Linked DNA regions of Homo sapiens: regions 1 and 2 are each linked to region 3. Evidence: fine-mapped expression QTL. A gene starts in region 3. Each other region holds a variant in brackets. All regions are shown on one strand. Distances are from middle to middle.

Region 1 (8,187 bases), 680 kb before region 3:
AAAGGAGTATCTCAAACAAGAGTAAGACCTGGTATCCAAGAACCAGGTACCTATCCTGAGGGAGGGTAAATAAAAGTCCCAAGTTGATAACTGAGCCTCAGGCCTAGAGAGAACCAGCTCAGACTGGAGCAGGGGGATGCATGCCTCTAGGAGGTCAATCTGTAAGCAAAAAGGAATACATTATATGATGGAACTCTTGAAAAAAAGAGGATAATTCAAAGGCAGACATTATAAGAAAAACAGGGAAACAATTAGAGATTCTCGTCAAACTAGTTACCAAAATGGACTTTTATTTACCCTCCCCTCTGAGAGGGGCCTGGTATTAGGAATGGTGACCAAGCTGGAGTTTAGTTTTAATGGCTTGGGTTAAAATTTTGTAATGAAAATATCTTTTTGTATTGTATGTGTGACTAATGGTAAATTTAAAACATTATAATTAATTCATAAATTTCAATCCAAGAACTTAGAGTTGGTTGTTTGATGAAAAAGTCAATAAAATAAATAACCAAATAAAAATTAAGAAATTTCACATATACAAAATTTGAAGTAAGAAAAGAGACATAATTACAGACACAAAGAAAATGAAAATAATTGTAATTCCCTTGGAGACACCTCAGCTGTCAATCTCCTCCTCCAACTTCTGACATAGGTATAAGCTATCTGGCCAAGTTGGGGTCTAGTCAGCACTACAAATATATAGATCAGTCTCCTGCCTCTGTGATCAAACCAGGGCTTTCACTGAACTAATTAATTCTGTAAGCTATTATCCGATCTTGGAACTAGTTACTAGCTGTTGAGTTGAGAAGGGAATTCGACATCCATTAAGTAGACAGAGAGTTAGGCTAAGAGCAAGCCACTTATCCTCTCGGCTAGCAAACCTTGATCAGAACATATTTGTACCTTGTTTAAGGACGAGAAAACATGCAATCTATAAATATACTACAGAACAGGGAGAAGGAAACAGAAGTCAGGAAACTTAGAGGCAATACCTACTTCTGAAAGTAATCCACTGCAGATTCTAGAGGAAAAGTAAGAACAAATATCTTGCCATACTAAAACACAAGAAGGCACAGCTTCCATAATTTAAAACCACAAAGACATAGCTTCTATAATTTAAGACTGGAAAGGGCATACACAAGGTGAAATGGTAATTCAGCTGGATGAAATAGAAAAGAATAATTATAAGAAAACTTAACACATAACAAGAGATGATCAGTTTGTGTGTGTATGGGTTCCAATAAAACCTTACAAAAACGGACAGAGACCAGACTACCCAAGGGCCATAGTTTGCCCACTCCTGATGTAGATGGTCACCCACTGTGCCTTTCATGGGGTTTCAAAAGATGACCAGTTTTTAAGGTAGTGAAGAAAGGGCTGGCCTTTCTTCTTGCTCCTTTCAGAAATTGCTGCAAATAATTAAAGACAGAGTACAATTAAGCTGGAAGATATCTGAAGCCATGAAACCACAAAATAGAAGTATAGTTAATATAAAACAGGTATCAAAAGATAAAAAGAGTGGATGCTCATGGCTGGCAGATTTCAGAAAAGTCCAAGAAGACATACTTCCTCATATCTTATACCGCCATATCTTCCCCATTTTTAATATCAAAGTCTAATTATTCCTCCTACTTCAGCCTCCCAAAGTGCTGGGATTACAGGCATGAACCACTGTGCCTGGCCTTGTTTCTTTCTTCTATCAAGGTGCAAGTATTATACTTTGATATGAAAAACAGTCAGTCATTCATTATAACAATGGGATCAGGGTATACAAGCTAGCATCGGTGGTTTTACTGGACTCCTTTCAACACAAGTCTCAAAAGGTAGGAAAGATGGGACCAGAAGAAAGAATCACATTGACAAGTCATTTTTGCACTGTAAGTCTGTTTTGCAAGGTGGGGAGGGGAGGAAAGAAATTCTGAAATGTAAACAACTCTGCAGCTTTGATCTTGATGGGCTGGAGAGAAGTAAAGGCTGAAAACTCACACATACAATCAATACCTTTCATAAGAGAATTCCTGCTAATCTAAAACTCACTCCTAATGCCTCATTGATATTAATATATCTACATAAACTTTCTGCGAAAAGTTTATTTAGAACAAACTCACCTCAATGATAAATAATAAGCAAAAAGGATCAAGATACTACAAGATAAAAGGAAGAAAGGAACAACAAGGCCAGGTGCAGTGGCTCATACTGGTAATCCCAGCACTTTGGGAAGCTGAGGTTGGAGGATTGCTTGAGCTTGGAGTTCAAGACCAGCCTGGGCAACAAAGCAAGACCCTGTCTCTACAAAAAATAAAAAAGTTAGCCTGGCATGATGGTGCATGCCTGTAGTCCCACTACTTGGGAGGCTGAGGTGGGAGGATTGCTTGAGCCCAGGAGGTTGAGGCTGCAGTGAGCCATGATCACACCACTTACTCCACCCTGGGCAACAGAGTGAGACCCTGTCTCACAAAAAGAGAAAGGAACAACAAAAACGAATAAAAGAAGAGCAGTAATAAAAAAAATGTTGCCAAGGAGAAGATAAAACTTGTAACCAAACATATCACCATAATCTAATGAGATGACCACATCTGAAAAACCAAAGTCTAATGTAGAATTAGCTATAAGAATTTATAGAAGACGTATGGGTCAATGGAACAGAATGGAGAGTTCAGAAATAAACTCTCACATTTATGGTCAATTGATTTTCAACAAGGGTGTCAAGATGACTTAATGGGAAAAGAATCATATTTTCAACAAATGGTGCCGGGACAACTGGATGTTTACATGCAAAAAATAAAAAAGAGGTTAGACCTCTTCTTCACACCATACACAAAAATTTATTCAAACTAGATCATAGACATATATGTAACAGCTACAACTATCAAACTCTTAGAAGAAAATATGGAAGTAAATGTGGCCTTGGGCTAGACAAAGCCTTCCTAGATGTGACATCAAAAGCACAAGTGACACAAGAATAAAAAGATAAATTGTATGTCATCTATGAGTTCATCAATTAACTCAACAACCCAGGAAACAATTACTGAAGTAAAAATAGGTCAATAAATGTCAACAAAACTGAACAACTAGAAGGAAAAATAGTTAGAAAACAAACTAGAACAGCATATTCAAGAGCTGTGTGACAAAATTGAACAGTATAATATATGTAAATGCAATACCAGAAGAAGAGAAAGAATTAGAAGCAATATTTGAAGACACAGATGATAAATATTTTTCAAAATTAATGATACCAAATTACAGATTGAATAAGCCTAGAGAATGCCAAAGT[A/AAC]ACACACACACACACACACACACACACACACACACACACACACAAAAATCAAAGTAAAGAGCTTGAAGCCATCCAGATTTTTTTAAAAAGATACATTATGTACAGTTGAATGCAAATGGGAATTACAACAAACTTATTGTGAAAAACTATGCAAGTAGAAACAATGGAGCGGCATTTTTAAAGTGCTGAGGGAAAAACCAATAAAACAAAATGTAATAAAACAAAAACAACAACCACAAACCCAGAATTCTATACACAGTGAAGATATAATTCAAAAACAGAAATAAAGACTTTTCAGAGAAGCAAAAACTGACAAAATTAATTAACCAACAGACTTGCACTACAGAAAATGTTAAAAAAGACACACTGTAAATATAAGGATAGAGATAGGTTGAAAAGAAAAGAATGGGAAATATATACCACACAAACATTAAGCAAAATAAATATGATAGTGCAGGTGTATAAATTTTAGACAATGCAGACGTTTAAGGCAACAAGTACTACTTCAGACAAAAAGGACATTTCACAAAGATGAAAGAATTGATTTAATAAGAATACAACCTTAAAGTTGTAAGCACCTGATTTTATATTGCCTCATTTATTTTGAAACATTCTTACTAACAAATACAAAAATCAAAATAACAAACTCAACAATCACAGAGATGTCACAGTTTCCTCCATGTCTGTAAGAAACAGATAAAATATCAGGAAGTTTATAAGGATTTTAAAAACATGATAAAGCAACTTGACATAATAGGCAAATATATGACACTCTACCCAATAACAGCAAAGACATATTTGTTTCAAATGCAGTGGGCCATTAATCAAATTAAATTATTCACTGGGCATATAGCAAGTCTCAACAAATTTCAAATGATTGAAATAATATAGAGTATGTTATGTGATCACAGTAAAACAAATAAATCAGCAACAGAGAGAGAGCCAGAAAATCGCCATATATTGGGAAATTAAGTAAAACACTGTAAAATAACTATGAATAAAACAAGAAATAACGTAAAATTTATAAAATATTTTAAACTCAATGATAATAAAAATATGACTCATCAAAATTTGTGATATGGGGTTAAAGCAGTATATAAAGGGAAATTTATGCTTTGTATGAACTTTTAAAAAGTAAGAAATGTTGAAAATCAATGAACCAAGTTTTAATCTCAAGAAGTCAAGAAGAAAAAGAAAACTGAATCCAGAGAAAGTATTGGAATAATAACAAAAGACCAGAAATAAATGAAATGCAAAGCAAAATAAAAATAAAAATTCAACATAGAAAATAAACAAAACAAAAAAATTTTTTTAATTCCATGACCTGATGAACAAAGCAAAAATTTGATCCTATGGTAGGATTAGTAAATTTGATGAACCTATAACAAAGGCGACAAACTTTTTTTTTTTATTATACTTTAAGTTTTAGGGTACATGTGCACTAGGGGGAGGGGCGAGGGATATCATTGGGAGATATACCTAATGCTAGATGACGAGTTAGTGGGTGCAGGCGATAAACTTAAAATAGATAAAATATAAATAACAATATCAGGTATGAAAACGGAGACATCAGTACAGACATTATAAGGATGATAAAAGAACATTACAAATAACTTACTTCAAGTAAATTAAACAACTTAGATGAAAGGGACATATTTCTAGAAAAACACAATTGACAAAAACTGATACCATAAAAAATATTATAATAGCATTAAATACCAAAGAATACACTTTACAAAAATGTGCAAGACCTGTACACTAAAATTTTACAAAAACATTGCCAAGAGAAAATTTAAAAGATGTAAATAAATAACTAAACCATGCTCATGGACAGGAATACTCAATATTGTCAAGAGGTATGCTCCCCCAAATTGATCTGCAGAATCAATGTAATCCCTATCAAAACCTCAGAAGATATTTTTATTGATAAAATTGACAAGATGATTCTAAAATTTATATAAAAATCAAAGAGAGCAAAGTTGGAGGAATTATACTAACAAATATTAAAACTTACTATAAGATAGTATGTTACTGGTACAAAGATAGACCAATAAGTCAATGGAATATAAGAGATCAGGGGTTGGCAAACTTTTTCTGTAAAAAGCAACATAGTAAATATTTTAGGTTTGTAGACACATATGGTCCATGATACATATCCTTATTTGTTTTTTTGCTTTTTTTTTGTTTTGTGTGACAATTCTTTAAAAATGTAAAAAAATTCTTAGCTCAATGCCATATAAAAACAAGCTGCAAATTTGGCTTGTGGATCATAACCTACCCCTGAAATAGAGTACAGAAACAAAGCTACAGTGATACAGTCATCAGATTCATGGCAAAGACAACAGTGCAATTCAGTGAGGAAATTATTTTTTTCCAACAATTGGTGCTAGAGCAATTAAATATCCATATGGAAAAATGAACTTTTATCTGCATCACTCCATCAAAATTAATTAAAAATGAATCATAAACTTAATTGTGAACAACACAGCAATCAGACTTCTAGAAGAAAATATTTAAAATATGTAGAAAGAAAATATAGAAGGATGGCATCATGTTCTTAGGATAGGCAAAAATTTCTGAAACAGAATACAAAAGGCATTAACCATAAAAAACTGAAAAATAAGAATTAATTAAATGTAAGAACTTCTATTAACCATAATGCACCCTTAAAGGAGTGAAAAGACAAACCACAGACTGGGAGAAAACATTCACAATATGTAAATCCAACCAAGGACTTGTATCTAGGCAAAATAAAGACCCATTCTGACCAAAAACTGACAGAGAACTTTTTACTAGCCAACACACACTGAAGGAAGTTCCAAAGAAGTTTCTTCAGACAAAAAGAAAATGATCATAGATGGAAGCAAGAAATGCAGAAAAGAATGAAAGAAATGAAAGGTGTAAATATATATATATATATAAATGATATTGATTATATAAAACAATAATAATGTCTTATGGGGTTTAAAATATATGTAGAATTCAAATAAATGACAAGAGCACAAAAGGTAGGAGTGAGAAAATGAAGTCACGTTGTTTGAAGGTCTTTGCATTGGGAGCCAAGATGGCCGAATAGGAACAGCTCCAGTCTACAGCTCCCAGCATAAGTGATGCAGAAGACGGGTGATTTCTGCATTTCCAACTGAGGTACCGGGTTCATCTTACTGGGGAGTGCCGGACAGTGGGTGCAGGACAGTGGGTGCAGTGCACTGTGCGTGAGCCGAAGCAGGGCGAGGCATCGCCTCACCCAGGAAGCACAAGGGGTCAGGGAATTCCCTTTCCTAGTCAAAGAAAGGGGTGACAGATGGCACCTGGAAAATCGGGTCACTCCCACCCTAATACTGCGCTCTTCCAACGGGCTTAACAAACGGCACACCAGGAGATTATATCCTGCACCTGGCTCAGAGGGTCCTACGCCCATGGAGCCTTGCTCATTGCTAGCACAGCAGTCTGAGATCAAACTGCAAGGTGGCAGCAAGGCTGGGGGATGGGTGCCCGCCATTGCTCAGGCTTGAGTAGGTAAACAAAGCGGCCGGGAAGCTCGAACTGGGTGGAGCCCCCCACAGCTCAAGGAGGCCTGCCTGCCTCTGTAGGCTCCACCTCTGCGGGCAGGGCACAGACAAACAAAAGACAGCAATAACCTCTGCAGACTTAAATGTCCCTGTCTGACAGCTTTGAAGAGAGTAGTGGTTCTCCCAGCACGCAGCTTGAGATCTGAGAACGGGCAGACTGCCTCCTCAAGTGGGTCCCTGAATCCTGAGTAGCCTAACTGGGAGGCACCCCCCAGTAGGGGCAGACTGACACCTCACATGGCCAGCTACTCCTCTGAGACAAAACTTCCAGAGGAATGATCAGGCAGCAGCATTTGCAGTTCACCAATATCTGCTGTTCTGCAGCCTCTGCTGCTGATACCCAGGCAAACAGGGTCTGGAGTGGACCTCCAGCAAACTCCAACAGACCTGCAGCTGAGGGTCCTGACTGTTAGAAGGAAAACTAACAAACAGAAAGGACATCCACACCGAAAACCCATCTGTACGTCACCATCATCAAAGACCAAAGGTAGATAAAACCACAAAGATGGGGAAAAAACAGAGCAGAAAAACCAAAAACTCTAAGAATCAGAGCACCTCCCCTCCTCCAAAGGAATGCAGCTCCTCACCAGCAATGGAACAAAGCTGGATGGAGAATGACTTTGATGAGTTGAGAGAGGAAGGCTTCAGAAGATCAAACTACTCCGAGCTAAAGGAAGAAGTTCGAACCAATGGCAAAGAAGTTATAAACTTTGAAAAAAAATTAGACGAATGGACAACTAGAATAACCAATGCAGAGAAGTGGTTAAAGGACCTGATGGAGCTGAAAACCACGGCACGAGAACTATGTGATGAATGCACAAGCCTCAGTAACCAATGCGATCAACTGGAAGAAAGGGTATCAGCAATGGAAGATGAAATGAATAAAATGAAGTGTGAAGATAAGTTTAGAGAAAAAAGAATAAAAAGAAACAAACGAAGCCTCCAAGAAATACGGGACTATGTGAAAAGACCAAATCTACAACTGATTGGTGTACCTGAAAGTGATGGGGAGAATGGAACCAAGTTGGAAAACACTCTGCAGGGTATTATCCAAGAGAACTTGCCAAATCTAGCAAGGCAGGCCAACATTCAAATTCAGGAAATACAGAGAATGCCACAAAGATACTCCTTGAGAAGAGCAACTCCAAGACATATAATTGTCAGATTCACCAAAGTTGAAATGAAGGAAAAAATGTTAAGGACAGCCAGACAGAAAGGTCGGGTTACCCACAAAGGGAAGCCCATCAGACTAACAGCTGATCTTTCGGCAGAAACTCTACAAGCCAGAAGAGAGTGGGGGCCAACATTCAACATTCTTAAAGAAAAGAATTTTCAACCCAGAAT
Region 2 (8,187 bases), 53 kb before region 3:
AAGTACTTAACAGGGTAATAGAATATCACAAGGCAAGTGGAGGCAGGGCGAGATCACAGGACCACAGGACGGAAGCGAAATTAAAATTGCTAATGAAGTTTTGGGCACCACTGTCGTTGATAACATCTTATCAGGGGACAGGGTTTTGAGATCAACCGGTCTGACCAAAATTTATTAGGCAGGAATTTCCTCTTCCTAATAAGCCTGGGAGCGCTATGGGAGACTGGAGTTTATTTCACCTCTGCAATCTCGACCATAAGAGACAGGTACGCCCCGGGGGGGCCAGTTCAGAGACCTACCCCTAGGTGCGCATTCTCTTTCTCAGGGATGTTCCATGCTGAGAAAAAGAATTCAGCGATATTTCTCCCATTTGCTTTTGAAAGAAGAGAAATATGGTTCTGTTCTGCCCAGCTCACCGGCAGTCAGAGTTTAAGGTTATCTCTCTTATTCCCTGAACAACTGCTGTTATCCTGTTCTTTTTTCAGGGTGCCCACATTTCATATTGCTCAAACACACATGCTGTACAATTTGTGTAGTTAACGCAATTATTACAGGGTCCTGAGACGATATACATCCTTCTCGGCTGACAGGATTAAGAGATTAAAGCAAAGACAGGCCTAGGAAATCACAAGGGTATTGATTGGGGAAGTGATAAGTGTCCATGAAATCTTTACAATTTATGTTTAGAGATTGCAGTAAAGACAGGCATAAGAAATTACAAAAGTATTAATTTGGGGAACTAATAAATGTCTATAAAATCTTCACAATCCACGTTCTTCTGTCATGGCTTCAGCCGGTCCCTCCGTTTGGGGCCCCTCACTTCCCGCAACAACCTATAGAACTGTTAGCTACTAAATGGATGTTGTTTTAAACCACTAAGTTTGTGGTAATTTGATATGCAGCTATAGAAAAATAATGCAATGCTGTATTACTTTTCAAAAATTCCTCATCATCACGTCTTCAAATATTGTTTCTGTACCATTCTCTCTCCTTTTTTTCTAGGACTCCTATTGCACATATATCAGATCTTTACACATATTAGGTGCCAGACACTGTTAAAGGTGCTGAAAATATATCAGCAACCAAAAATATTCCTATCCTCATGAAGCACCTTTTAATGACATCCTGATCCCCCCTACACCTAAACTGTTTCCTCCCACAGAGTTCCTCCTCACAGTAAATTCTAGTCTCATTCAACCAGTTGCGTAACTCAAAAATCAGTGCTTCAAACTCAATACTTCATTAAAAAAAGTTTTCCCCCCAGTCAATTATCAAGTCATGATAACTTTTATCCCCTAAATGATTCTCAAACTTCACCCACCGTAGTGTATCTCTACTTGCCAACATGCCTGTCCAGGCCCATCATTATTTCTCACTTAAAGACTGCAACAGCCTTCTAATTGACCTATCCACTCTTGCCCTCCCTTCAAACTTTTTGCACATGGTAGGAAGAGTTAACTAAAATATGTCAGTGTGTCACTCCATTTGAATATCTCCCTAGGCTTTTCAATGTAAAATCCAATGTCCTTAATGTAATGCCTTCTACTACCTGGTTCTGAGCTACCTCTCAGCCTAACTTCCTGCTACTTACCTCCTTGTACTTTATTGCTTAACCCCAGATTTACCATGTTCTTTCATATTTGAAGAAACTCATGTTCATGCTCTTTGTTCAAACTGGAAGCCCTTCCCTTCCTATTCTGCCTTTTATTCATCTTTTAAGAATCAGTCTAGATATCATCTCATCTAAGAAGTCTTCTCTAAACTCCCAGAATAAACCAGTAGCTTTCTTTTGTTCTCTCATAATAGTCTTTATGTGTTTCTTCTTAATACATTATGTTGAAATGATATGTTTATATGTCTTTCCCCCTAATAATGCTGGATGTTCCTCAATAGGAAGGCCTATCTGTCTCATTCATTTTGATACCCTAACATCTAGCATGGTTCCTAGTACTTAGCAGAACTCCATAAATGTTTGTGAAAATTGAATTGAATTATTATTCTTCCAGCATCATAGCCCCTTTAAATCTAAAATGTTTGCTTAATCTTAATGTCTGCTTAAGATATTTTGCTTAAGTAAATAATATTGACTGGGTCAATCCAAAGGTAGGGTATACAGCAGATCATCAAAAAATTCATCCTTTGCCTATGATATGTTAATCAGCACTCTTTGAATATGGTGATTTAATTAATTAATACATAATTATATTACTTTTATAACCCATATTATCTTGTCCAGAAGGTTATCATAAATGACTTATTAGTCTTGCTGAAATTTCATTCATTCATTTAAGATATGTAATTATGTCTGCCATATTTCCATAAACTACCTCTAATAGCCTTGTCAGAAATAAGAACCAGGTTTGTGTTGAATGGCTTTGTTGATAACTGTAATTTTTTAAGTACTCGCTTATTTGAAAATTTGTTTTAGAAGCTAACTTAAGAGACATTTAGCTCACTGATTAGAAGATTGAAGACTCCCCCTTTTTCTTTGTTAGCCTCAGTAATATATTTATATAAATCCAATCTTAAAGCACCTTTCCTATTTTCCTTAATGCCTTCGATTACTGAGAGTAGTTTAGTAATATCAACTGAGTTACAATTTACCCATTCCAGGACACATGTACTTTTTCTTTCTGAGAGTATAGTTAAAATATTGTTCTTGTTGTCTTTACAAATATGCATTTCTACAAGCCTGAGGTAATTTTGGACCTTATCCTTCCAAATACTAACCCTTTAGGCACATGTCACCAGTTATATTTATCCTTGTGTTTGTGCCCTTTTTCCTATTTCTTATATATTATCTTTTAAAAAAAAGAAAGTATGAACTCATTGTAAAACTTCCTATGTGGCCCCATGGTTTTCCTCTTTTCTCCTTTAATAGAATAATTTGCTGTTTCATTGTCAAAATTATGTTTTTGAGAGCTTCCCAACCTTTAGAGTCTAAAGCCATCGTAATGTAAATTAAGGTCCAAAAAGTATCAATCATAATAACAGAAACTTTTGGAGATCAGCCATAGCTAGAAATTCTAGTCAGAGTAGGCAATTACATAATAGGTCAATCTGAATCTTTTCATGGTTATTACTAAGGAAGAAGCATTACCTCCTGAAAGGCTTAAAGCCAAGAGTGCATTTAGCTCCTGTCAATTTTTCCTTCCAAATGTCTTTCAGATTTGTCCTTCTCTTTCCATTCCTATAGATTCCTTCATCACCTCATACCTGGCCTATTGCCATAGACTAGATGGTTTCCTTGCCTTCAGTCCATCCATATTCCAATCCATTGTCCATACACTATTGCCAGATTAATCTTCTTAAAACACTTTCATCATGCCATTCTCCTGCCTAAGACTTAGCTCAAATGTCACCTTCTTCGTAAAATATTCCCAGCTCCCTTAGGAAGAGTT[A/T]GCAACTGCCTACTCAGTGTTTTCACAGGTCTCTGTGCATAACCTTATTAGTGCACTTAAAACATGTATGACAATCATTTCTTTAATTATTTTTCTTACCTCAATTGCTATGAGCTCCTTGAGGAGAGGCAAAGGTTTGAGCCATCTCTTTACAATTGCACTCAGGGCGTTACATAATCTATCTTGCCCCACCCATGTCAGGACCATCACATATACTGCCTTCTCTGCTTACCATGCTCTCCCCTTCATTCTTCCTGCTCGTTCCTTAGGTCTCAGATTAAATATCAATTCATTGAGAAACCTTCGCTGACACTCTTATTAACTAATTAATTAGTTAATCATTTGAACAAATATTTGTCGGGTGTCTACTTTGTGCTAGACATTGTTTTAGGCACTAGGGATATACCAGTGAACAAAGAAGACAAAAAGTCTTGCTTTCAAGTTTATCTTCTAGTGGGAGAAGGTAGATAATTAAGTATAAACATAATAAGTTATATATAGTAAGCTATAAAAAATAGCAGGATAAAGCAGTGTGCTGGAAGTTGGACTTTGAAACATGGTGGTCAGGGTAGGCCTCATTAAGAAAGATGACATTTGATCAAAGGAGGAGTTAGTCATAAGGATATCTGGGGTAAAGTAGACTAGGCAGAGGGGATAGCCAATGCAAAGGCTCTAAGTTGTGATTATATCTGTTGTGGCCAAAAGAAAAAAAAAAGAAAGAAAAAACATTGTAGCTGGAGCTCACTAAGCAAGAAGTAAAATAATAGATGAAGTGAGAAAGGTAGGAATAAATAGGTCAGGTCAGATCATGTAGGGCCTTATAAGCTAATATATAAAAACTTTAGTTTTTACTCTGATAGAAATGATGAACCATTGTAGGGTTTTAAAACTAATAGGTAACATGATGACACATTTTAAATGAACTGTTCTGGCTGTTGTATTGAGAATAAACTGTAAACAGGCCAAGGAAAGGAGGGATACCTGTTAGTAGGCTATTACAGTACTGGATTTATTGAAGTAATCCAGGCAAGAAATGATAGTGACTTAGACTAAGGCAGTAGCAGTGAAAGTGGTGAAAAAGGGTCAGAGTCTGTTTTTTTGAAGGCAAAAACGACAGGATTTGCTGATGAATTGAAAATGGGGTGTGAGATAAAGAGGAATGTATTAGTCCATTTTCACACTGTTATAAAGGACTACCTGAAACTGGGTAATTTATAAAGAAAAGACATTTAATTGACTCACAGTTCTACATGGTTGGAGAGACCTCAGGAATCTTACAATCACAGCAGAAGGTGAAGGGAAAGCAAGGCACGTCTTACATGATGGCAGGAGTGGGGGGAATTGCCACACTTTTAAACCATCAGATCTCATGAGAACTCACTCACAATAATGAGAACAGCAAGGGGAAATCCACTGCCATGATTCAATCACTTCCCACCAGGCCCCTCCTCTAACATTGGGGATTACAATTAGACATGAGACTTGGGTGGGGACATACAGCCAAACCATATTATCCCACCCCTGGCCCCTCACAAATCTCATGTCCTTTTCACATTTCAAACCCAATCATGCCTTCCCAACAGCCCCCAAAGTCTTAACTCATTTCAGCACTAAAAAGTCCAAGTCCAAAGTCTTATCGGACACAAGGCAAGTTCCTTCTGCTATGATCCCATAAAATCAAAAACAAGTTAGTCACTTCCAAGATACAATGGGGGTACAAGCATTGGGTAAATGCTCCCATTCCAAATGGGAGAAATTGGCCAAAACAAAGGGGCCACAGGCCCCACACACGTTCAAAACCCAACAGGGCAGCCATTAAATCTTAAAGCTCCAAAATAATCTCCTTTGACTCCATTTCTCATATCCAGGGCATGCTGATGCAAGGGTTGTGCTCCCACAGCCTTGAGCAGTTCTGCCCCTGTGGCTTAGCAGGGTACAGCCACTGAGGCTGCATTCACGAGCTGGCATTGAGTGCCTGTGGCTTTTCCAGGTGTACAGTGCAAGCTGTTGGTGGATCTACCATTCTGGGGTCTGGAGGATGGTGGCCCTCTTCTCATGGCTCCACTAGGCAGTGCCCAGTGTGGACTCTGTGTGGGGCCTCTAACCCCATATTTCCCCTCTGCATTGCCCTAGTAGAGGTTCTCCATGATGGTTCTGCCCCTGCAACAGACTTCTGCCTGGACATCCAGGTGTTTCCATACATGCTCTGAAATCTAGGCAGAGGTTCCCAAACCTCAATTCTTGCCTTCTGTGCACCCACAGGCCCAACACCACATGGCAATTACCAGGGCTTGGGGCTTGCATCCTCTGAAGCAATGTACCATGGCCCCTTTAAGCCACAGTTGGAGCTGGAGTGGCTGGGATGCAGGGCACCATTTCCCAAGGCTGCACAGAGCAGGGAGGCCCTGGGCCTGGCCCATGAAACCTTTTTTTTTTCTCCTAGGCATCTGGGCCTGTGATGGGAGGGGCTGCCGCAAAGGTCTCTGACATGCCCTGGAGACATTTTCTTCATTGTTTTGACCATTAACATTTGGCTTCTCTTTACTTATGGAAATTTCTGCAGCAGGCTTGAATTTCTCCCCAGAAAATGGGTTTTTTGGTTTTTTCCTTTCTATCATATATTCAGGCTGCAAATTTGCCAAACTTCTATGCTCTGCTTCCCTTTTACATATAAGTTCCAATTTCAGACCATTTCTTTGTGAATGCACATGACAGTATGCTGTTAGGAACACCCAGGTGCATATAACACTATGCTGTTAGGAACAGCCAGGTTACTTCTTGAACACTTTGCTGCTTAGAAATTTCTTCCACCAGATACCCTAAATCATCTCCCTCAAGTTCAAAGTTCCACAGATCTCTAGGGCAGGAGCACAATGCTGCCAGTCTCTTTGCTAAAGCATAGCAAGAGTGGCCTTCACTCCAGTTCCCATTAAGTTCCTCAGTTCCATCTGAGATCATCTCAGCCTGGATTTCACTGTCCAAATCACTATCAGCATTTTGGTCAAAACCCTTCAACAAGTCTCTAGGAAGTTCCAAACTTTCCCACATCTTCTTGTTTCTGAACCCTCCAAACTGTTCCAACCTGTGCCCACTATCCAGTTCCAAAGTCACTTCCACATTTTCAGTTATCTTTATAGCAATGTCCCACTCTCCTGGTACCCATTTTCTGTATTCGTCCATTTTCACACTGCTATAAAGAACTACCTGAGACTGGGTGATTTGTAAAACAAAGAGGTTTAATTGACTCACAGTTCTGCATGGCTGCAAGGCCTCATGAAACTTAAAATTATGGCAGAAGGTAAAGGGGAAGCAATGCACACCTTACATGGTAGCAGGAGACAGACAGAGCAAAAGGGGAAGTTCCACACTTTTAGGCCATCAGATCTCCTGAGAATTCACTCACAATCATGAGAACAACAAGGAGAAAGTCCACCCCCATGATTCAATCACTTTCCATCAGGCCCCTCCTCTGACATGTGGGGATTACAATTTGAGATGAGATAGCAGGAGTGGGGAACAGAGCCAAACCATATCAAGGAATGAATGATAACCCAAGGTATTTGGACTGAAAAACTGAAAGGATGGGGAAGACTGCTGGAGGATGTTTGGAAAAACAGATTAGAATTTTAGTTTTGGATCTGTTAAATTTGAGATGTCTATTAGATTTTTAGGTGGAAATATCAGAGAGGCAGTTGGATACATGAGTCTTGAGTTCAGGGGAGAGATATGAGCTGCAGATACAAATTTGGCAGTTGTTCCATAGTTGGTATTTAAAGTCAGGAGACTGGATGAGACTACCAAAGGAATTGGTATAGACAGAGAAAAGAAGATTAACATTTGTTAGTTTCTCATAGATCCTTTTATTCTTCAATGCACTTATTACAACTTGTAATTATTTGTTTATTTGTTTTTATTTCTGTGATTGTTTGGCTAATGTCTGGTTGCCTTATTACAAGAAAATGTTCCAATGAGAGCAGGGTCTATGCCATTTTCTCCATCACAATCAGCAAAATAATATGTTGGATTGCATGAATTAAAAGAATGTTCCTTTTTTTCAAGGACTCAAAATTAAATGCTCACAAGGGCTAGGCAAGTAACATAAATAAGTCGAGTATAAGAGACAATGTGTTGTAGAGAGAGGGGTGAACTGAAGTGTCCAAAAATCATAGCCACTACTTAGTTCCAGCTGATTATGGACAGATAGGCCTAGTGTTGTAATCTTCAGAATTTTTGAAATGAGCCAGATATACAGATTATATATGAAATCTCCCAAATTGTAATGCCAACAACTGTATTAGTTCAGGTCTTCTAAAAAAGCAGATGCCATGATAAAAATAGATGTGCAAGTAATTTACTGGGGAAAAGATATGTGAGGGGAAGTGGGAAGAGTGTCTAGACTTGGAGGGTCATCAGACCATGGTACAGGTCCTATCCCTGTGGAAGACAGAAAGAAGGAAGCACAGTCTCAGACTGCAATGCAGATCTAAGAAAGTTTCAGGAAGGCTGTTGGGGAATACTCAAGCCAAAGGTGGCCATTAAAGGAGTCTGGGTCTCCAAGGAATGGGCTCTCATTAGTATTCTTGCCATGGTCATTCAGTAGTTTGGAACAGTTGATGGGAAGTGTAGCCTTGGAAGAAAGAAACAATGATGGATGATAGAACACAGCAGCTGGGCCCTCAGTCAGCTATACTCCCTTTAGTAGGAGATATGAGTGGCACATTGTGGTGGGCATCACAATGACTAAATTCAACAATGCCACAACAGTATGAGCCAAAAACACATCTTC
Region 3 (8,187 bases):
GCCCCTATACCTCTGAAACTAAAATAAAAGTAAAATAAATAAAAACCTTTGCCCTTCAACATACAGTAGTAAGAAAATGAAAAGACAAACCACAGACTTGGAGAAAATATTTTCAAACTACATATCTGATAAAGGACTTGTATATAAGCAACTCTTACATCTCAATAGTAAGGAAGCAAACAACCTAATCAGAAATGGGCAAAATATGTGAGGAGACATTTCTCCAAAGAACATATACAAATATCTAACAAGCAAATAAAAAGATGCTCAATTAGCCATTAAGGAAATGCAAATCTAAATCACAATGAGATACTTCTCCACACCCTCAAGAATAGCTACACATTTGAAAAAAACAAAACAAAACGGGGAAATAACAAATATGGTGATGATGTGAAGAAATACATTGCTGGTGGTTCATATAAATCTAGTAACTGTAAAATAGTACAGCCCCTTGGGAAAACAGTTTGGCAGAAAATTAAACATACAGTTATAATATGACCAAGTAATTCCACTCATAGGTGTTTAACCAAGAGAATTGAAAACGAATGTCCACCCAAAAACTTGCACACAAACGTTCATAGCAGCTTTATTCATAATAGCCAAAAGATAGAAACAATCCAAGTGTTCATCAACTGATGACTAGATAGACAAAATGTAGTATACTGATGCAATGGAATATTACTCAGCTATAAAAAGGAATGAAGTATTTATATATGCCACAACATTAATAAACTTTGGAGACATTATTTAGATGAAATTTTCAGGATAGGCAAATCCATAGGCACAGAAAGTAGATTAGTGGTTGTCTGATGCTGGGAGTAGTAATGAAGACTGACTGCAGATGGGCAAGGAAGATGTCACTGACGTGATGCAAATGTTTTAAAATTAGATTGTAGTGATGGTTGCACCACCCAATAAATTTATAAAATCACTTTAAATATGCAAATTTTATGGCATGTAAATTATCCTAAATACAATATTTAAACACTGTGAGCATCAAGAAAAAAAGAGAACTTTCATCTCCTTACTTTGACAATTTATTAGGGATCATACAGAGGTCATTAGGCTGTTTGTTGTTGTTGCTGTGGTGGTGGTGGGTTGTGGTTTTCCCATGAGAGTCGAGGGTCATGCAACCATTTGGTCTTTTAAAATAAAAATTTTTAAATCAATTAAAAAAGAATATTGCTGGCTTGAAATTTGGAGTAGTCATGGGACAAAGAGAAGTGGATGGATTTTTTAAAATATTCAGGATGTAGAAGTGACAAGATTTTGTAGCAGTTAGATATAGGGAGTGGGGAAAGGTGAGGAGGCCTCAGACTGAGTATGCTTAAAGTTGAATTCCTGTTGTCCTCCCGAACTGGCTGTCCTGTGCTGCCAATCTCAGTGAATGGATCAGCATCCTGGCACAGAGTTGACATTCATTGATTGCCTTTGGAGTGAATGAACAGAGTATGATGAATAGAGTGAAAATATAGCTAAACAAGGCAGACACCAGGTCCTGCCAAATAGCCAATGCAAAACTCACCCTTCAGGTTGGCTCAGCAGATATCCAGCATAATTTTTTTCTCACCTTTCAAACCATTTGGGAAATCATGAGGTATTTTCCTCATCCAGAAGAACACTCACCTACATATCAGCCACTCCTTCCCTAGAACCTACAGGTATGGAGCAGGCTGGGTTTTTTCAAGAGCCTCTTATCCTGTAAATCTTTACACAGGGCAATGGCAGGTGCATGTACAGCCCATATGAGCCCAGGGGATGCTTGGTATTATAGAAAGGGGATCACAGTGGTGCCCAACTGATGGATCCGTGTTCAGTTTGCAGGAAGAGACTCTTCCCACCAAAGAGGTTTGTTAATCCTGGGGTCCCCCTCCCAGCCCCTGGAGGCATCAGATACAGCTGTCAGAAACATTGTAAACACCCAGTGATCCACTTGGCTGGTTTTACTGTTGTTCCCAGGGTTGACAAGCAGAAATACAGAACAAATGGTGGTTCCTGAAACAGAGGCCAAAACAAGGAAGTGATCTGTTCCAGTCCAAGCTTCCAAGAAATAAAGAACTAGGTGGGGCACACTAAACAAGCCCCCAGACTCAACCACCCCAGTAAACATTCCCTTCATCACACTGGTTATGAGATAAAGTATAAGTTTTTTAAGCCTTATTATAAATAACCTTACTTAACGTCTTCTGGTTGTTGTGAAAATTATAGTATTTTGCAAAATATATGTTCACCATTATCATTACCACCAGTTCCTTAATGAGGAGAAACCAGAAGTTGACACCAAAATGTTGATCCATAATGTTTATAGTCCTTCTTTGTCTTTATAGTTAATGTAAAATAAACTGTATGTAATTTTTACTACAGTGTGTCCTGAAAGGGCAAACCAAGCTACAAGCAACTCTAAAAGACTACTACTGTATGGGAGTGGATTATGAAAGTGTTTCTTAAATATGAGAGCTCAAGTTTTTCTTTCAGCGACTGAGTTAAAGCACGCAACTCATTTATCATGAGACTTTTGCTAGGCAGTGTACTATGTCCACTCAACACACATCATTTTAGGCAATCATCTGGTTAAAACGTTTAATAGTATGGCATTCACAAACCCATTCTTCAGAGTTGACATTCAATTAATGGTTTGAATGTCGTTTCCAGGGCAGTCAGGAGTATTTAAAGGCTTTTCCATTGTTTTCGGAAGAGAAAGAAAACTTCCTAGCCTAACTTACTTACCCAGAGCCTTGCTCCAGAGGGGGCAGACAAAGGGTAAAATCTGGGCAGAGAACATTAGTGGATATGAGAACGAAAGAAAGTGCTGCAAGATCTTGCAGACAGCTGAGTTCCACCTTCCACTCTACTGCCGAACAAAGTGAGGCAGGAAGAGGGTAGGGACTCGCTGAAAGCTAAACACCAAGTCAGTGACAGATCCAGGGCTGTAAAGTCCGACCGAGATTGAAACAATGTACACTGGGCGTCAGTCCCAACGCGAGCTTGCTCCAGCTCTTCCAGCTCTTCCTGAGCGCTAGGCCCATCCGGCCTCACGCTGATCTCCGGGCAGACTCTGTCGCGCAACTGGCACAGATCGTGACGACAACCCTGCGGCAAGGCAGGAGTGGCCTTCCTCTCCGCCAGGGTTAAGGTGAGTACCACCGCCCTTGGGCCCAGCAGCCCGGGTGAGAGCCTCCGCCGCCCACTGCGACAGGCCTGAAAGCGAGCGCCTGGGTAAACCCACCCGTAGCACCCATGGGGACACCCCTTCCCTGACCCACGGGACGGAACCCACCTGTGCTGGAGGTCGTGACTGCTAACTCCGCAGAGTGGGCAGAATTCCAAGCAAGGAGAGTCTCGGGAGGCAGCCTTTCACCCGCCTTTTGCCTTTTCACCCCCAAAACTGTCGGCCCCACGCTCCCCTCCCCCAGCCCGCTCGGGCCCAGCGGAGAGCCTGTAGGCCCCGCCCCACTCCTTCCGGCCGTGCAGGGTGGGTGCCTCTGGCGCCCGGGACTTCGCCCGGTGCTAGGGCGTCAGTCTCCCATTCGGAAGGACTGGGCCGGGGCACTCTATTCAATCGCCTTTAGTGAACATACTTGAAGCTATAGGTGCAGGGATGAGAAAAAACAGGCCCATAAAGCTATAAAACCTGGGTCCCCTGCCTGCCATTTCAGTGCTCCTCCCGAGTCCTCCCACTACGCTTCTATTTATGGTAGTTTATCCAGGTTTACTAGAAGTAAAATTCTACTACCTTTCCACCATTTTCTTGAGTTTATGGAAGTCATATACCGCTCATTACTCCCATCGATTCAGCTGAGCATCTTGAACCCAGGGTCCAGATACAGTGCTACATACAGTGAGCACTAGAAGGGAATACCCATTAGGAATGAACACCTTATGCAGGTAAAAATTTAAGAACGATACATATTACAAAGAAGGACCAAAAAGTATACTGAAATAGTATATGCAATGGAAATCCAAGGCAGATTTAAAAAATGAGAGTAAGAACAACAAAAAAAATCAAATGCATATATACTGAAAATGGGAAATTGTGCAGTATTATATTTATTCGAGATTAAAAGTGTTAATCTAATGTCAAAAAAGCAATAAAGGAATTGGTTTGTAGAAGTCAGGATCAACAAAAGAAGAAAAAGCCTCCACATCTTTGCCCTGGAATTCCTTCTGCCATGAATGCTCTTACCCGGCACTTGTTTATTTGGAAAACGGCTACTCGTTATTTTTGACTCAATTTAGATAGCACCTCCTCTGTGAAGCCTTCCCTGTCTTTCCCAGATAAGTTTGTATATTTTTTTTCCCTAGGTCCAGTATGCCCAATGGATCTCGTACAGGCCTCAAGAGTACCACTTACTCTAGATTATAATTTCTCTTTCTGCATGTCTTTGTCCTCTAATGAATAAGTAGCTTCTTGAGAGCAGAAAACTTGTGTTTTTCATATTTGTTCTCCAAGCACAGAGTCTAAAATGTCTATATATTTAATAAATATTTGTTAAAAAATTTCTAGAACCAGTGTGTAAACAAAAGGACATATCCAGAGTGTGAATGTAACATAAAGAGGAAAAACTAAGTACAATGAGAATCTAGATTTAGTCTGGCTGGTATTCATTCATGCAATAAACATTAATGAGTGCCTACTGTATGCCAGGCACTGTACTAAGATCTGGGTGTAAAATGATAAACAAAGCCCAGATATAGTCCATGCCCTTATGCCCTTATGTTTAAAGAACAAATTGGAGTTGGCCAGGCAAATGGGAAAACAAAAAAAGTTTTGGGCAGAAAGAACAGCATGATCCAATGTCCTGTAACAGGAAGATCATAACTGTAGCAATTAGAGTGAATGAGCTCACTTAAAGCTAAGCTGAAATCAACACAAAGTACTCAGAAAAGGCAACAGGTTGATAGACAATACCTGTTTGTTTGAGTCAGTAAAAGAAGCAAGTTTCCTTAATAATAGTAACCAACATTTATAAAATGTGCACTATATGCTAAACACTGGGCTAAGTGTTTGTTTTATATCAAACACTTAAGGTAGATGATATTATTTCTACTTTAAGGATAAGGCAACTGAGGCACAGATAGGTTAAGCAATTTTCACCAGGATCACATGGCAGATAAATTTCAGAGCTGAGATTCAAACCTAGGTAATTTGGCTCCAGACTCTAGGGAGCCTGGATATTTTACTTTTAATAAAATATAAATTTTACTTGTAATAAAATAAAAGTCAGATATTTTACTGTTTCCTCTCTCTGTGTGTGTGTGTGTAGCAGGTCACATGGTGTATGGCACAGAGTGGAACTTCTTAATATTTTTGGAATGAATGAATAGCTGAATAAAAGCAATAGGTACAAATGTGCTAGAAAACAAAATAGAAAAAAACAATAGTATCTGGGTCTTTTTATGTTCCCGCCACACCAGCTGTTCCTAGAACACACCAAACTTGTTCTTGTTCTGCTTCCAAAATATAATCTGCTCATGCATTTGTCCCTCACTGTACTGCTAACATTCCGGACCAGAGTTTGGCTTTTTTTTTTTATCTGTGAAGGGTCAGCTGGTAAATATTTTAGGCTTTTTGAGTCACATACAGTCTTTGTCTCCAGGTATTAAATTCTGCTTTCATAGAGTGAAAGAATTCACAGACAATACATAAATGAATGCGTGTAGGTATGTTCCAATAAAAGTTTATTTACAAAAACAGGCAAGAGGCAGGATTTGCCCTGTGGGCAATAATTTTTAGACTCTTGCTCTAGGCCAAATTATCACCATCTCTTGCATGGACTACTGTATTAAATGATGTCTGAGAGCCATCATCTTTGACTAACATCTACACCTTTGTTTTATCAGCCTCTCAGTGAAGCTTTAGTGATCTCTAATCATATTCATAACCTTGAGTTCTTGAAAGGTGGTTAAAACTATGTGTTAATTGTGATTGTGAACTTCGATTTATCAAAGATGGTCTTTAAAAGAACTACTAGTGATCTTTGAAAGAGTTAAAAAATTAAAGAAGGAAGATTTATTATAAAAGTAGTGACTTTTAGCCAGAAAATAAATATTCTGGACACAGTGCAATGTTGAATTTGGCTGAAGCTTTGGTCTATGACAAGAATCCTGCTAGGTATTCTATAGAGAAACAAATAAATGCTAAAACTTTTCAGAAATCATCTAGACCATACAAAATTTTCCTCACCTATTCATGGACAAAAATTTGGTAAAGCTGAAGGGTATATTAATTTGTGTTTCGGTTTATGAACATTTCTGACTCTGGGGATATGAACATTTCTGACTCTCAACAGAAATGTGATTCAGCATAAACGTAGTAACCTATACAATTAATTTTGCAGTGAAGAAGTATTAATTAGGACTCATTAGTTAAAAGTTATCAAAACCTACCTGAAACTAACAAGCAAAAGAGAGAAATTTATGGGAAGATAATAAGGTGTTTCACAGAACTCAAGAAGGATTAGAACAATCAAAACTTTTAAAAAGGCAAGGTATAGTTAGGCCTCAAGAATCGTCAAAAACAAGGATTCCAGTGACATTGACTCTATCATTCTTTTACCCCTATTTTTCCCTGCACATTTATCTGGGGTCTCTCTCTCTCTCTCTCTCTCTCTCTCTCCTCTCTCTCTCTCTCTCTCTTCTCTCTCTCTTCTCTCTCTCTCATCCCCTCGTTCCCTTCCTTGCTTTCCTCCCCACTCCTCTCAAGCTCTTTTTGTTTCCCAAGTCCATGTAACAGTAGATACGGTTACGGACACCTTCCTAGATTTTCATATTACAGATTCAACCACTGAAGAGAGACACTAAGCCATATCAGGTCCTCTGAAAAGCAAATCTACAGATCTATCGTGGGTAATGGCTGGCAAGATAAAGAGGAGATTACAGTACAGCTCTATGGAAGTCTCAACCACCCCAACAGAGACTGCTAATTAGAGGAATCCTGCGTTAGACAGAAACAGCCCTAGTACACCTCTTGTGCTCAGAGATTGGCTGGAGATGCCTGGGAAGGGAATGGCCTTGGATCAAATGATGCAAAAATAATCCCAAAAGTGCTCCAGCTGGAGACTGTTAGCTGACTCCACTCCTCATAGTAGGTTTTCCCTTGAAAGATCTGAGAGGCACTCCCTGGTTACCATAGACCTTTATGGTCCTATCTCCATAAATCTATGAGGGATTTATTGGCCAAGTTTGAGACTGGTGGCCACCTAAGACCAATCAACTGTAGCTAGGTGAGCGATGTCACATATACCAAAGGATAATTTTCTCAGTTTTCCTGGGGCTGAGGAATTCCCTGTAATGTGCTAAAACCACAACAGTTCAGGGCAAACTAGGATGCTTAGTTATTTTATTAGTACCCATGTTAATAGGGGTGGGAAAGTTAAAACCGTCCAGTAATATCCTACTATATAAACAATTGTACTTTACTGTATTTATGGAGGAAATTCTATGTATAGTGGTTTTATTGGATTAGGATAATTTATAAAGGTCTCAGAAGAATTCCCTTGAAGATGACAAAAATTTCATACTTTAATTCTTGCATGCTGGTTCCCTTGTGCATTTATACATTCTTCCTCCATCTAGAATGCTCCTCTCACTGCAACCTCCCTCTCCTCAACCTTGTCCTCACTGTTAGAAATGCTTCTTGCCCATTTCTCTAGTTTCCACATGGAATTATTTCTCTAAATTAAGATTAAATCACATAATAAATGCCAAGCACATATCATAGGACATGGCATAAAATAGGGGCTTGTATCAGTCAAGGTTCTTAGTTGCATGCAACAGAAGCTGAAGCTGACTGATTTAAGCAGGAAAAAAAGTTATGTTGGGAATGACACTGGATCAGCACTCTTGCCGTTAGAAACATCATAAAACTGCATAAAATATGCAAGGAAACTGTTTAAAGATATTGAGCAATAGTCAGCCCATGATTATGATCCCCAGGAAAAGAGAAACTCACAAATCAAGCCCCAAGACTGCCTTAGCTCTTTGCCTGGTGACTATTTTCTGATCCCAGCATCAAGAGCTAGATTCCAAGCTGAGCTTGCAGTCTCATTGAACGAAGGAGGAAAAGATCAGAGCTCAGGGTAGCAGAAGCATCTGAAATCTATGGAGCAAGGCATTAGAGAAGACAATCTGTGCAGATGTTGGGACGGGTAAACATATGTCTTGGGGTTTCCAGCAAAACTTTAAAAA

Direction of the effects. Alleles are on the strand shown, and positions count from the first base shown. SD is a standard deviation of normalised expression in the study named. Not every link is listed here.
In carriers of allele T in region 2, the expression in sigmoid colon of the gene that starts at base 3,438 in region 3 tends to be lower than with A alone (small effect, 0.19 SD a copy in GTEx).

What was found.
Region 1: its variant is fine-mapped to the expression of TMLHE in iPS cells (PhLiPS, PIP 0.95).
Region 2: its variant is fine-mapped to the expression of TMLHE in sigmoid colon (GTEx, PIP 0.96).

Annotation. Positions count from the first base shown.
Region 1 is chrX:154,932,710-154,940,896 of GRCh38, forward strand. All of the region lies in intron 13 of F8 (coagulation factor VIII), which reads right to left. Among named protein-coding and RNA genes, the nearest start is that of MIR1184-1, 49 kb to the left of the region's middle. The variant A/AAC (reference allele first, on the strand shown) is at 3,272.
Region 2 is chrX:155,556,571-155,564,757 of GRCh38, forward strand. The region is part of intron 1 of TMLHE (trimethyllysine hydroxylase, epsilon); the gene reads right to left. Among named protein-coding and RNA genes, the nearest start is that of SPRY3, 52 kb to the right of the region's middle. The variant A/T (reference allele first, on the strand shown) is at 3,402.
Region 3 is chrX:155,609,515-155,617,701 of GRCh38, forward strand. TMLHE (trimethyllysine hydroxylase, epsilon) reads right to left here and starts at 3,438. Exons shown (of 8, transcript NM_018196.4): 1 at 3,278-3,438. It overlaps SPRY3 (sprouty RTK signaling antagonist 3), which reads left to right and starts at 3,072. Exons shown (of 3, transcript NM_001304990.2): 1 at 3,072-3,133.